Linked DNA regions of Homo sapiens: region 1 is linked to region 2. Evidence: fine-mapped expression QTL. Tissue or cell type: B cells. Region 2 holds a variant in brackets; the other region holds the start of a gene. All regions are shown on one strand. Distances are from middle to middle.

Region 1 (7,883 bases), 400 kb after region 2:
GCACACAAGCCTTTTAATGCTTTATACTCAGTGCCTTTCTACAGTATAACATTACACTCACATCGCCTTGTCACAAAATAACTGGAGACAAATAAAAACTGTTTCCCAGTTTATTCCCATTTTATGAGTATAAGCTAAGTAGACATAGCCTCCGATTCTCTGACAGTAGGTAGCATATAAGTTATGCAGCAATAAAATAACAGGACAACCCAACTTTGTATTCCTATTTTGCAAAATGTCATCAAAAGTGACCTTAAAAAATTAATATTTACTTACACTTACTTGGCATTTGATGCTATATGTTAGCTACTGTGCTAGGATTAAATTAGATAGCATGTGTAAAATGCCTAACTCTAATGCTATTATTCCCATTAAAGGTAGGAAAGCTGAGATTTGCAGAAGTTGAATGGTCCACAATCCCACAACTGGTCAAGGTGGCAGAGCTAGAAATCAAACCCACGTCTTTCCACTAAAATGAGTGTTTATCACCCAGCATTCCCGAATCCTCTGGTGTGCTTTTTGAGGAGAGGGGCAAAAGAGGTTTCATTTGCTCCTTAAAGAGGCCCACAACCCCACAAACAGTGAAGGTGAACACCCCCCTGCCCCATACCATCACCAGTGTAAGAACCAGAAAATGCACACTGGACTTCAACCCCTTTCACAAAGATTATCACTCCTCTACTCCATAAGAGGGGAAAAAACTACATGGTTTGGTTTTCGTTTCACTTTAAAATTCTCAGAGCAAGTCAAGATTTTGCTCCTGGGAAATTTCCAGCATCCCATGCCGCAGGTTAAGTTACATAATAAATTGCAATACTGTATCAGTTTACACGCAATTCTGAGATTTCACAAATAGTGACCCATGTTATTTAATCATTCCACTTTCCAAAATGTGTTTCAATCAACCAGTTCTCACTGCATTGCCTGTGAAATAAGTTATCATTATATCCACTTCCAACAAAGCAAAGCACTGTCACCCTGAGGCCAGGCAATAAATCAGCGACAGAATGGGGATCAGAAGTTCCCCGACAACATCCCTCCCCACCACCTGCAAGACCATGTCACTTACCATGGAGCACCCTCCTAGCTAAATAGAAAACATAAAGCAACTAACTACTCTCCACCAGCGGCAATACTAAATTAGGAACTATTGGTGAATCATTAAGTTAGGGTACACCCCCAGCTTCCCAATGCCAGTGTGCTCATCTGTAGAAGTGGAGGCAGAAGTTAAGGGGCAAACACGTGGCACATGCCCCGCACCTTGAAAGGGAGATGTAATCAGCGAGGAAGGCTGGGGCAGTACAGGGTTTGATCATCTCCGCTAGGATGTAGCTCTGCGGTGGGTGAGGAACTCAGCAAACTCCTGACATCCCGCCGCTAGGATCGATTTGGAGCTATGGATTCATCTGAAATTCCTGATTCGAAACAGGAGTATGAGAGTGAAAATGAAATTTACCTTGAAGCTCCTCCTTTTACAGATTATGGAACTGAACCTCAGAGGAGTGAAATGATATACCCAAGGTCTCACCACTCAGTAGCAGAGGCAGTTCTAGAAAGCAGGCCTCCAGACCCTTATCCAGGATCCTTGCAATGGGGGCTTAGGGGAATTAGGGAATGGGTCATGGTTACTGCAAGTGGCTTGGCCAAGAACCAGCTAAGCAGCTAAGGCTTGTTCCATCTCTGCCAAGCTAGGACTCGCCTCCTCTCAACCTTGTGCCACATCCAGTTTTTGCTTCCAGGCTGGGGGCCTCTGATTGCTTACTCTAAGGGACAAAGGCAATTATTTACTAAAGCTAACCCCATCCAAGATGAGGAAAATACAACACTGGCACTCAGGAATTAATTTCACAATAAGTCTATGTTAAGGTGATGTTTTATTTGTGGCCCTGCCTGATCAAGATGACTTCCCCACAAGAAACGTCCAAAGCAAACAATCTTTTTTTTTTTTAAACTGAGTCTGGCTCTGAGACGTGAAGAATTGTACACTTCTTTAACTGTCCTCCAAAAGCAGAAAATAAGCCGGACAGAGCAGCCAGAAGGACACCAGAGTCCTATGCTCAGTGTGTCAGGAAGCGACCCACAAGTTCTGGAGGAACATCCTTCCAGGAAACTGGGCAGATACAGATCCCCCACCCCGCTCCGCCCCGCAAAAGGTAAGACGATCTGTACTCGGTTTGGTGACAAGCGTTCATCTGGACAAGCTGGAAACAAGTCTGAACGGGAGCTGCAGGCGCGCACGCCAGCGCCACCGAGGGAGCGCGGGGAGTCCTCTTCTCCCAGAGGACCGACGCTGCGGGGACGCGCCAAAACCACCCGCGGGCGATCCCAGGGGGCTGGCGCCACTGAAACCTCCGCAGGCAACTCCGCGGCTACCGCTGCCCCCCACCCTACTCCTGCCTCTTACCCCCAAGGCACCATTTCTCCCCCTCAACTCCCTGCCCCTCGGCCCAAGCGCTTCGGTGGGAAACAACGCCCACTTTGGAGAATCAGAGGTGAGTTGTGGGGACACGCCAGATGTCCAGATCGCATCCTTTCACAGATCAACCAAGTCAGATACAAACACGAAGGAGTTTGCTTCTCTGACATTTTAAAAACACACCATCAGGCAGCACACTGAGACACACACACGGGGGTAACAGCCACAGGGAAGTCAATAACCCACAGGGGGGCTCCTAACTATCGTTGTCCCGTGCTCGGGGCAGAGCGCTTGGGGTCCCTCCCTATCTCCAGGCCACAGCGCTCTCCTGCCCACTGCCTGTGCGCAGGATGGGAAACTACGGTCGCCCGGCTGCCGGAACCCAGAGTGGGCAAGCTGGGGAAAGGCCCACCTCCTCGTCCTGCTCCTCCTGGGACGCGCTGCTGCCCCGGGGCGCGGGCGGCACAGCTCCTCCGGGAAGCGGCGGCGGCAGCGCAAGGACTCCGCGCTCCAGCAGCACGCTTGCCGGAGCCCACGCGGCGGGCGCCCGGGCGCCCAGGGTGCCTCCCAACGGCGGCGGCGGCGGCGGCTGATGCTCTCTGGAGAAGCCGCCGGGCTCCCCTTCCTCCGACAGAGTTTCTGAGCCCGAGGAGGACTCGGCCGAGGAAGCACCCGGAGAGGACGCGGCGACCAGCGCAGAGGCTGGAGTCCGGCTGCCGTGGCCACTGCAGCCGCGGGGCACCGGCTCTGGCGCCTCCGAAACTTTCTCCCCCATTTCCCTGTCTGGCCCAAAGTGCCTCCCGAGCGGCGGGGGCGCGGCGCGCACTCAGCGCCTCCCGGGGAAGACGCGGGCTCCTGGGCTCAGGCTCACTGGCACTGCCGCTCCCGGGCTGCAGGGAGCCCCGCCAGCGACTACATGGCAGTGACGGGGCCGCAGGAGCCCGCTGCTAAGTTCACAGCCGCCCGGGCCCGGCCGCAAACGGAGGCTCCCGCGCGCGGGGACATGCCCGCTCGGGTCCGCGATCTGCGCTCCACTGTGCTCCCGCGCTGCACCCGAGCCGCGGGTACTGCGGCTTCTCCTTGCAAAACCTGCCTCCGGGACGGAGCAAGGAGACGGGCAGCCCGCAGAGCCAATGGCAGGGCAGGCGCGCTGGTGGGCGGAGGCTGCGACGCCTCCGGCCATGAGGGCCTCAGGTAGGGGAGGCGGGGCCCGGGCGCGGGCCGTGGTCCCGCTGGAGCGCCTGGGCGCAGGGGACAGGGACCAGGCGGGGGTCCCCGGAGGGTGGGGGCGGAGCCCAGAATCGGAGCCAAGGGCTGAGACTCCGAACTTAGCGGGGGAGTGGCTGACCGTCCTTGGGACGTCAGAGGGAGACGGCGAGCGGATGGTGAGACCTTGGAGAAGAACTGGACTTTGTCTCCAAAAAGTGGAATCAAGAAAACGGACAAGAAGGAGGGCTCTATAGGGAAAAAAGGAACCACACACACACAGTCACCCACGCACACGGACTCACCAGCGTGTTGGAGGAAAAGGACAGAAACTTCGTGGTATAGTGAGCGGACCCAAAGGGGAGTGACCTCTAATCTCTGCTTTTCCGTTTAAGCTCTTTGGGCCTCAGTTTCCTCAACTGTAAATGGCTACATTACTACTGGTCTTGGCAGGCTTAGAGCAAATATATATAATGCATCAGCAAAGTGCCTGGCTTGGATACACGGAGCGTTTTTAAAAGACTATTTCCTGTCTTTATTTCTGTTTGTAAACTAAAAAGTTAAGTCTGAGACTTGAACCTTTTGATAGGGAGGAAGATAAAAAAGTATGTCCTTGTATTTAATTAGGACCAAGCTCTGTAGTCCTACTCAAATTGTCTGTCTCGGTATGATCAGCTAAGCAGAGGATGAAAAGGATTCACTTTCCAATGTACATTCTCCTAGCCCTGGGTTGTAAACCAACAGGATACAGGACAGGTTGCTTCATTTTCCTTACCTCTAAGAACTAGGAGAAAGAACTTTCACTAAAGGTACCAATAGAGTACCCTTAAGTCCTTCCCTGGGGCTGGAGGATGCTGCCTGTCCGGTGACTGGAATTTCCTTGGAAGCCAGCACTCAGCTCAGCAGTGGGAAATAAATGATTCCTCTCTTGCCTTCAGCTCTAGTCCCATTCTGAGCTCTGGCACAGTGACCTGGGATGTAAATTCAACCGCCTCAGTTCCATGTACGTTGATGGAGATGTGTGCCAGGTGCAGGGGATACAAAGATTAATAAGTCAGGTCCCCTGCCCTTGAGCAGCTTATGGTCAAGCGAGAGATTGATACTGCATAATATAGCTCCCTTATCCATTTTAGAAGCTGTGATAAGTGATACAGGAAAAATGTGTGAGGGAGAAGAGGAAAGAGTTACAGAAAAACAGTAGCAGGTCCTTGAGCATCTTAGATTTCTCTTTGTCAGAGCAGCCTTGCCAAAGGTCCTTAAAAACTGGAGGACCCTAATTGAAAGCCCCTTCAGCTAATGAGCCTTTCATGCTATCATGGTATTTACAAGTGATACATCACACAGAGGGCTTCATCATATTGGACAGCAACCTTTGTCCTGATCAGTTTCCTCCCCTCAAGATGAAGGGGAAGGAAATACGTTTTGTCTATCTTGCTTCAGACAGCCATACTGCAAAATGGACTCCGGTTGTCAGGCTTTCATTGTGACGCTTCTGAATTATTCACAGGGATATGAAGACCTGCTGAGGCAAAAGGTCAAGTCTAGTGGCAGCTAAGTTGTGAGAGCAAGGCTAAAGAGAGAGCACAGTGGGGCAGTCCGAATTTAACCCGGGCCTCACAATTACTTTCCTATTTAGGAGTTCTGGTCTTTATCTGAGCCCCTACGTGGTTGATTCACCAGAGCTGAACTGAAATGACAATTTCAGCCATGCACATAAAAGAAGAGGAGGAGTTGCTTTTCAGTACATAGGGAAATAAGAAGCAAGGTCATGGTCTGAATAACCGACAGCAAGAATGACAATAGTTATTATCGCCTGAGTCCTCTGCATCTTCTCTGGATGGTCTCATTTAATCCTGGCAACAACCTTGTGAAACAGATTCTATTAGTCCCACTTTATTGATTAAGAAACTGAGGATCTGCAAAGGTCACACAGCAAGTAAGCAGTGGAGCTGTGGTTTGGAACCCAGCAACCTGATTCCAAGGCTGTCTTTCCTAGGCATTCTAGTATTAATACAATGCCACTCAAAACAGACAGCTTTTTCAAATATATATATATACCATATTATAAATATCCATAGGGAAGAAACTTTGCTGTATTGATTCAATCTGTAAAAGAAAATACTTGAGGAACATATTTGTTTTTCCCACAAACATTTTTAAGGTACTTACTATGTGCCAGGCAGGATTTTAAGCACTTTAAAATGTTAATATACTCAATTCTCATACCAGCCCAATGAGGTAGCTACTATTACTATTCTCATATCATATTTGTGAAATATGTGAAAACTATGACAGAGAAGTTAAGTAATTCAGCTAAAGTCACACAGCTAGCAAATGATGGACCCAGGATTCAGATTTGAACATTTGGTCCCAGCATTTGTGCTCTTAACCTCTACAGATCAAAGTCAAGTACTAGATCAGTATTTCTTGAACTTTTTAAACCTGAACCTCAAATAAGAAATATATTTCACACTGGAACTCATGACACATATGCATATGTACAAATACAAATAAAATGTCATGAGACAATACTTACCCATCCTTTAAGCAATGCACCCTGAAATTTATATTTTATTAAAAATAAAGATGCTAGTTGTAGTCCACTAAATAGATTTCAAACTCTACTTCAAAACTTGCAGTTTAAAAGTGTACTTGTTCATCTCCACACCCACCTGTGAGGGAAATAAACTGTAGTTCAGGCTAAGAGTATCCAGACCAGAACATGGCCAACTCAAAGGATAACTATAAATAGAAGATGACTAGAGAGTCAGGATAGTTCCCCAAAAGTATCCTAGTTAGACCCATGGATAAATTTCCTGGGGTGTGGCCAAACCACTGGACCAAAATCAGTTTTGATTTATCCAAATCCTGAAGTTCAACTTTCCTATCTTGTTAATTAAATAATAAATATTTTCCTCAGTGGTCAGAAATGTGCCCCCTCCAAGAGACCTTTTTATAAACGTGTCTAGTGTTGGAGACTGTGGGACCAGAGGTGAGTGTGAAAGCACAGGTTTTTCTCTGCAGTGTCACCATAGGCAGGAGCCAGAAAAATAAAAACAACATCATCACAACTCCTGAAAAGCCAATAGTGTAGCGTCACATGACAGAACCAGACTAGCCTAAGGCGAGGAGAGACAAGGTCGGTGTACTCCAAGGTAATCAGTTTCCATGTGTTCTGTGAGACATGCTCACAAAGTATTTGATTCAAGGACAGCACCCCTGGGAATCCGGTAAGTATTCATTGTGTTTTGTGATTGAATGCCCCCCTCCGGTTTCTATGTTTTTCTCAGAAGTGACGGGAGACATTTCCTCTGGGAGTCTCTGTTGTCTCTGCCAGTCTCTGCTGTGTAGGTGAGGCCTATTGTGAATGTCAAGCTGTCTCTGCCAGATGGACGATGTTCCAGCAAAGTCATCATACCCTTAAGTCTACTCCCAGTGTCATGACCTTTCTCCCAAACATCAGGTTGGGAGGAAGGTCAGTTGTCCTTCTTTCTTACATAGATGAAATTAGAACATCATGAACTCAGAACGAACATTTTTGCAAAATCACAAGTAAATATGTTTCTATTTAATGCACTAAAAATCCTAAATATCAGATTATCTTTGAATTATGAAGATGATTATATTATCCAACTTTGGTAGACTATTTTTATTATCATTGTTAATGATGGATTTGCCTACTCCCCTATGACTAATAAAGTACAATTTCAAGACAAAGTAAGCATCTATCAAAAGGTGTCTGTTGAGATGCGCTAGATTGGGGTTTCCGATTTATACCCGAGGGTGTAGCATGATACAGACCATGGAAGTTTCTGATCATCCAGCCAGGAGGAAAAGCCCGTGGAGCCTCTCAAGCTTTTGTTTGTATCTAAGGAAAGGAACGAGTGTTACTATACAAAGCTCCAGAAGATAAGTCAAAGGATTTTTAAATGATGGTCAAAAAGAACAGGGGAGGAAGAGGAATAATGTGAATTGCCGCTATTGGGTTCTCTGACCTAGGTGTTGAGAAGGATGGGAAACTAAGCTAAGTTAGCGAATTAAAACAAGCCTGTGATGGACCAAAGAGGAGTATGCTGCTGATCTGATTTCTCTGATCAAAGTTTCTGAATGTGTTGTATGTGGAACACTTGCATCAGATGACCAGGGGAGTGGGAGATGCTGGCTTCCTGGCCCCACCCAAAGATCTGGGAATCTGTATTTTTAAAGGACTACCCCAAAGAAGTATCAAGTATTCTGAGCCTTGAGTATTACTGAAGATGGG
Region 2 (7,883 bases):
CTTTCAAGCAGGGGAAGTTCCTGGGAGAAGCCCCATAGCTTAGTCCCAACAGAGTTCCACCCCGTGGGAGAACAGCTGGACACACTGCCAGAAAACACATGGCATCCTTACAGGGATGAAGGGGTCATGCAAAAGAAGGAGACTACTGGGCAAGATCCAGAGATGAGTGTATCTCTCCATTCTAAAACAGCTGTCTGGAAGATCCATCAATAAACCACGTGGAGCACTGGCCTCCACCCAAGCCAGTAATCCAATTATGAAGTAGACAGCAACACTTGGAGATCAATGCATCACCCGGCAAACAGAAAACCTAACTCCTATCTTGTTTTAAGACCAACCTTGTTGTCACTTTAGGCAGCCTTCATGGGAGCCCCCCATCCCCAATGAATTAGATATCCCTCTACTGGGCTGTGCTCCTGAGAGCTCCTGCATGAAAGGGTTCTTCCACTGTATCAAAATCCAAATCATTTTGTGCACATTATCAGTCCCTATTAGAGTAAGAGCTCCTTGAGGGCAGGGGCTTTATCCCCTCATCTTTAAACCATCACTACCACCATTGGGATGAATATTAAGCAAAGGGAGAAAGGGAACAATAGAGAAAGGATTGGGGGTGAAGGGGTGGGCAGGGGAAAGAAGAGATTGAGGATGGATTTGCTACAGGTTAGAAAGATGTGTGATAACAAAGTTAGGGCTACCTGCCTAATATTTTAAAGACTGACCCTATATGTGTTTTAAAAACCTTTTCCTGTCTATTTCAATTTCAGTTTCATGGGTCCATGAGTCCATTCCATTATCTATATAAGCTGTACCTATTAGGCAGGTCTACTGTTTCAAATTTCAAAATCTCAACAGAGACCATGATAGGTAACGAATTGCGTTTAAGTATAAATATACAACTAGTTGTGTATGAAGTGCTAAATTCTTTTTGATGGTAACAGTGAACCATGGCTACTAATCATTGCATTAGATGCTCAATCTGGAATTAACTTCAAGGACAAGGTGCTTCTTGATCCAGAAACTTGGGTCTAAGGTGCATCATTTCTTATACAGCTCTTGAGCATGAATTATAGTGCAATTATAAGAAGTGTCAATTTGGTTTAAGTGGGTCAGCATGGTTATATTTAGCCCTTTCGTAGCTGACACTAAGACCTTTCTGTAATTTAAGATTAAGGTTAATTTATCCGTTCTTCTTTTCTTGAATATTTTTTCCAGGTCATACATCTAAAGTTATGGAAAATTATGCCATTAAAATGAGAAGTATGAGTTTTCATCAAAGTACCAAACAGGGAGCATATACAGAGGTAGAAATCACATGCTTCTGTAACAATCGGAATTTCCTTCCATTGCTAAGATCAATTCCAATTATTCCACACATCGGAAGATATGTCAGGGAGGACATGAAGTTATTTAGTCAAGGAGTTCTATTAAGTTATATCACTTCTATACCAACAAAAAGTTTAAAAGAAACGTTAATTCATAGGGGTATAAATATAATGTCAGGCATGACAAGTGTTAACTCTTACTAGTTATCATAAAATGTAATTAAAACATCAATCAGGCTGGGCATGGTGGCTCACACCTATAATCCCAGCACTTTGGGAGGCAGGTGGTGCACCTGAGGTCAGGAGTTCAAAACCAGCCTGGCCAACGTGGCGAAACCCCGTCTCTACTAAAAATACAAAAAATTAGCTGGGCATGGTGGCAGGTGCCTGTAATCCCAGCTAGTTGGGAGGCTGAGACAGGAGAATTGCTTGAACCCCAGAGATGGAGGTTGCAGTGAGCCGAGATCATGCCACTGCACTCCAGCCTGGGCAATAGAGTGAAACTCTATCTCAAAAAAAAAAAAAAAAGAGAAAAGAAAAAAAACACATTAATTAGGTATCAATTTACCTGTTTCACTGGTAAAGATTAAAAAAAGATAATACTCAATGTTGGTAAGGACATGGGGAAGATAAGTACTCTCTACTAACTTTCTGGAAGGCAATTTGGAGAAGGAAAACATATACATACATAGACCCATATATGGTCACATACATATATATACATGTAGTAGGCACATATGTGTACATGTCCAAACACATATATAAATGTATGTGTCCATATATACATGTACATATAATATATACATAGATATATTTGAATTATAATTTAATATGCAATATTTATACAAAAGATACAATCAAGTATGCACACAGATTTGTGGATATGGAAATTAATCTCAGAATTGCTTATAATAGCATAATGTTGGGAAAAAGCCAAAGGTACAAGATGAGGGCAATTGTTAATACATCCTAAAACAGCCACAAAATAGAATTTTAGAAAACCAGTAAAGAATTAGAATTACAGTAGGCTGAATAATAGATTCCAAAGATATCCAGGTTCTAATCTCTGGAACCTGTGAATATGTTACCTTATATAGCAAGAAGAGTTTTGCAGATGTAATTAAGAATCTTGAGATGAGGAGTTGGTCCTAGGTTATCCAGGTGGGCCTTAAATATAATCACAAGTGTCTCTATGAAAGTGAGGCAGAGGGATACTTGAAGAAGGCAGCAATGTGGCACTGAAATGAGATGCTAGGCTGCTGGGCCTGAAGATGGAGGAAGGGGACAAGAGCCAAAAAACTGCAAGGAATGCAGCTCTAGGAGCTGGAGAAGGCAGGGAAACAGATTCCACCTCAGCGCTTCTAGAGGGAGCTCAGCCCAGCCGACACCTTGATTTCAGCGCACAGAAATTGATTTCGGACTTCTGACCTTTAAAATTCTAAGAGAATAAATAAATATAAGCTAGTTTTAAGCTAGTTTGTTATAATTTGTTATAGTAACCAGAAGAAACTAAAACAATGATATTTTTAAAAAATATGTAATAAATGGGAAATGCTCCTGAAGTAATATTTTAAAATCAGAAAAAAATGAAGTTCTATGATCTACATTAAGATATTATATATATGGTTATATACGAATAAAAACGATGGAAATCAACAAAGTATATATATATATATTTTTTTGAGATGGAGTTTCACTCTTGTTGCCCAGGCTGGAGTGCAATGGCACGATCTCGACTCACTGCAACCTCTGCCTCCGGGGTTCAAGCAACTCTCCTGCCTCAGCCTCCCGAGTAGCCGGGATTACACGTGCCTGCCACCATGCGCAGCTAATTTTGTGTATTTTTAGTAGAGACAGGATTTCACTATGTTGGCCAGGCTGGTCTCAAACTCCTGACCTTAGGCAATCCACCCACCGCAGCCTCCCAAAGTGTTGGGATTATAGGCGTGAGCCACCATGCCTGGCCAACAAAGTATTTTTAATGAACATCTGTCAGTACAGAATTATGATTTATCCTCTTTTATACTTCTCATGTTTTTTTACAAGTTTGTGTGTGTGTGTGTGTGTGTGTGTATGTGAGTGTGTTTTGAGAGAGCATCTTGCTGTCTCTCAGGCTGGAGTATAGTGGTGAAATCATGGCTCACTGCAACCTCCAACTCCAGGGCTCATGTGATCCTCCTGTCTCAGCCTCCCAAAGTGTTGGGATTACACATATGAGCCACTGTGCTATGCCTAGGTTGTTTTAAATTTAAAAAATTTTCGTCTGGGCATGGTGGCTCACGCCTGTAATCCCAGCACTTTGGGAGGCCGAGGCAGGTGGATCAAAAGGTCAAGAGATTGAGACCATCCTGGCCAACATGGTGAAACCCCGTCTCTACTAAAAATACAAAAATTAGCTGGGTATGGTGGCGGGTGCCGATAGTCCCAGCTACTTGGAAGGCTGAGGCAGGAGAATCACTTGAAACCGGAGGTGGATTTTGCAGTGAGCAAAGATCACACCACTGCACTCCAACCTGGGAGACAGAGTGAGACTCTGTCTCAAAAACAAACAGACAAAAAAATTTCTGATTTCCAGGAGCCACACATTTGACAGTCCTATTATCATGACCTGAAAGTTCAAGTTCCTGAGAATTTTAGAATACTTTGAAGAGTTTACAAACTTAAGAAAACAATACACACTTTTACTCTGGTATTTTAATAAAATTTGATTGATATTTTTTGACACACGAAATAATGCATATGCATTAATAAAAGCTCTATGAGTCTTGGAAATAAATACTAAAATTGCTTTTAAAAAG[AAGT/T]CTTTCCTACTCTCAGGAATTCTATAATATAAAAATGAAAAATATCTCTGATTTCTAGATATAAATCCTTACTACCTTGTCTATGGCAACTGGGCAAACGGGTATTTTCAAAGCCGACTGGGCTTTAAATCCATGCAGTGCTTTGCTTTTGTTTGAATATATGTGTCATTATTTGCAGATTGGTGAGGCTGTGCATTTATGTGAACAGTTTTGAATTCCAGACCTGCTTCCCTCTGTCATGTTGTACAATGAAAAAGCTTTCTTTCACTGCTCAAAAAAAACATGAACTCTTGAGAAGCAAACTTACTTTTAACATTATCTAGACATGAATATAATAAAAATAATGCTCTTCATTTCAAAGAATTAAATAGCTATAATTTGGGATTACTTCCTCCTTTCTCCAAAACACCCTAACTTGTTATTTCCCATGAGACTAGGTAATTCAGTTTAAACTGTCTGTATATAGTTAGACTGAGAGTACTGAAAGGTAAAGACGACGTTTCTGCTGCCAACCATAGAAATATTCTTGTATTCAATGTACTGTCATACATGTTATAGAAGACAACCATATTAAAGTTCCTGGTGATCAAAAAACTTTCAAAGAGAAGTTACTCCAGTTAATAGGAATGAGAACAACAGCCAGTCAAGTTACTCAATATAGTGACAGGTGAGTGACAAATGAATGAATGTGAAACAAGAATTGTCTTTATAAGTAGCTTTTAGGAAATGAAGTACGTACAGAATTATTAAGAATGCTAATATACGAAGGAGAAAGAAAAACAAGGCCAGAGGACATGTAAACAGCAGCAATAGAAAACTGAAAAGAAAAGCAAATCCCATTTAAAAGTGGCTGAAAAATACACCAGATTGGAAAATTGGAAAATAAAAGAAAATTGGGTAAAAGTTTTCACTCTGTATAAAATGATAAAGGAACAATAGATTTTCATGTCTTCTCCTCACTTGCCATGACCCTGGTCATGGCTTCCACGATCTCTTGTGTAGATTAATGCGGTACCGTTCCTTCCTCTTGGTGCTCCTCACTGTCAATGTGAAACCATTCTTCCAAAACTGCTCAGCTCAAACAGGTGCACGCAGTCATATCACTCTCCCATGAAACAAAGTTGAATGGGTCCCCATTGTTCTACAGCAGTATTTCTCCACACATGGTTTCTGTCTTATCATCATTGAATCATCTGGAGTGCTTGTTAGAAATGCAGATTTGGTGGGGTGGGGGGGGGGGTCTTCTGCACACCCATTGATTCTATAATTCTGGAAGTACAGCCCAGAAATCTGCATTCTACTAAAATGTCCAGGTGATTCTTAAAGTTTGAGAGGTACTCCACAAAAATATCAAAACCTCTTTTAATGGAATATTTTATGCTATAATCCCTTGTTATTTCTCCTGCCTCATCCCTTAACAAGTGCCCTCTGTTGTTTATGTGCCTGTCAGAAATACTGGATTACTTTAAGCTCCTCAGACACAGTAAGCTCTGCCACACCTCACTGCCTTTGCACATCCTGTTCCTCTTCCTAGAATTTCCAGCTCCTCTGCTTGGAAACCTGCACATCTTTCAAGCATGAGCTGTAAGGTCACCTCTCCAGCAAAGTGGTCCTGACCTTTTCCTGCAGACATAAATGGTTTTTCTCCTGGCTCCCCAATGAATTTTATTCATATGCATGCCTCTTTTTTACCAGTCATTCCACTGCAGCACAATTATGTGTTTACAGGTCTAATGCCCTACTATGCTTAAAGCTCTCCAAGTACAAGGACCGTTTCTATTCATCTGTGTATGTCTCAAAGTACACACCAGACACTCAGCGGAATGAATGGTTGCACACACATTTTTCTAAGGTTAACTAAAAACAAAAACAGTTATTTTTCTATTTTTCCAACTTCTACAGATAAGCCCTGAGGGATGCTTCCAAAATCAGGTTGCCTTTGTCAATTGGCTGGATGATTTTTCTTTTAAAGCACTGTCATTATTGACAATCTTCGTAATGAGTAATAAAATGATCAATAAAAAGTCCATGATATTCAGGCATATTTAAAAGGTTTATTAATAAATGAACCAAACGCCACTATTGGGTTTTTACTTTCCTTCCCAATAAGTATGGCTGAAGTAAAGTGTAGTTTGTCTTCTCTAAAAAGATGAATAAAAACATGAACTTGAGCAGGGTGACCTTTTTCCAAGGTAGTAACTCAATCCTGCTGGAAACATGATCAACACACACAGCCATAGCAGAGAAAAGATGAGAATCAAGAGTGCTACATCAACAGTGCTCAAGGTTTGCAATCTGCTGGCCACCACCTCACAGTCTGGGGCTCCTGGCTCACAAATGTCAGCTTACCCAGTGAAACCTTCCGTCGCACTTAGGAGGAGTTACAAAGTTGAACAGACTTCAGATCAGCTCATCTGAGTAATGTTTCACAATCAGTTCCCTCTGTTCATCTCCTCTCCTAGCACATTTCTTCCTCTTTCACAACTGCCCGTTCCTACATCTTGTTCTTGCCTGTATTGCACAGACAATCAATCTCACCTAAGGCTTTAGATGAGATTGATAAGTAAGAATTAACGTTTAGTTGATAACTTAGAAGATGTGACCATCTAGCTGGCTTTACAGTTTAAAGGGGACTGAAACTTTAAGATGAAAGTGCAAGGTATAGGTGATGGGGAAAGTCTGCCCATGACTTCGGAAGTCTGAGTTTAGTAGATGATGCTACCCATCAGAATTTAGAGACAGGCTTCCCAAGGAGTGGTAGCTATCACTCCATCTCCCTAATTCTTTTCATTAGAGAAAACCGGAAGTGAAGATGCGAAACACTGAAAAGGACATCAGTTCTTGATATAGACACTATCTCTTTTATTTTCCTCATAGTTATCAAGAGTAGATGACTTATTTACTAATTATGCAGACACCAAAAATGATCATTATGAAGATTATATAGCAGCATGGTAATGCATTACATGAAAAAACAACAGAAAAAAGTGCACCTGTATTACGATTGCAATCATAAAATCACGCATGCATACAGAAAAAGATTTGCAGGCATCATGGAAAACTGAAAACAGTTCATCCTACATGAGTTATTTATTTCTGCTATCATTGTTTTAATATATATTAAATCACATTATATAACTTGAGAGTGATTTACAAGTCTTTAGTAACTTGCTCCATGACTGTATCTGTCTGCCTTGCTGCCAACTCATCTTCCCTGAAGGAACTGCAGCTACCTTCAAATAACACTGCTTGATGCAAAACACACAGAAAAAAGCAGGAAGGCCCAGGCTGTCTCTGGTGAGGGCTCATGGAGGCACATCCTTCAATCGTTCAAAAATCCTAAACCATAAACTGCCTGGGGCTAAAAGATAAACATAACCACATTTAACATCTAGAGTGGCATCAGATACTGCCAGAGTCCTTTCTCTCCCCTTTCAAAATAATCATTTTTCTATTTATCCTTTGTATCTAGTGCTATAGCTTCAGAAACATTACTGCAAAAATCATGGCTCGGAAAGATCCATCCAGTGATTTTGTCCCAGAAACAGGATTGGATATACTTCAGTGAGCTGCCAGGTATCTGTAAAGCACCTAAAACTTGAGGTATTGTCTGTTACTTTCAGCTTTACTGGGGAGTGAAGTTCTTTCAGCTTTATTGTGGAGTGAAGCCTGCTGCACATAATGGAGAACACTGGCCCAGTCACTCAAATCACAAAGGCTATTTCGTATGTGCTTCAAAGATATAAGACAGGTAATATTC

Direction of the effects. Positions count from the first base shown, and alleles are read on the strand shown. Sizes are in standard deviations (SD) of each study's normalised expression.
For the expression in B cells of the gene that starts at base 3,454 in region 1, allele T in region 2 goes with a higher level than allele AAGT (large effect, 1.0 SD a copy in Schmiedel 2018).

Evidence for each region. PIP is the estimated chance that this variant, and not a neighbour inherited with it, causes the effect.
Region 1: MAST4 starts here. The variant in region 2 is fine-mapped to the expression of MAST4 in B cells (Schmiedel 2018, PIP 0.95).

The regions. Positions count from the first base shown.
Region 1 is chr5:66,591,964-66,599,846 of GRCh38, reverse strand. MAST4 (microtubule associated serine/threonine kinase family member 4) reads right to left here and starts at 3,454. Exons shown (of 29, transcript NM_001164664.2): 1 at 2,829-3,454. The coding sequence starts at 3,191. RefSeq lists silencers at 2,709-2,858, 2,869-3,008, 3,619-3,818.
Region 2 is chr5:66,991,401-66,999,283 of GRCh38, reverse strand. All of the region lies in intron 4 of MAST4 (microtubule associated serine/threonine kinase family member 4), which reads right to left. Among named protein-coding and RNA genes, the nearest start is that of MAST4-AS1, 8.8 kb to the left of the region's middle. The variant AAGT/T (reference allele first, on the strand shown) is at 4,121.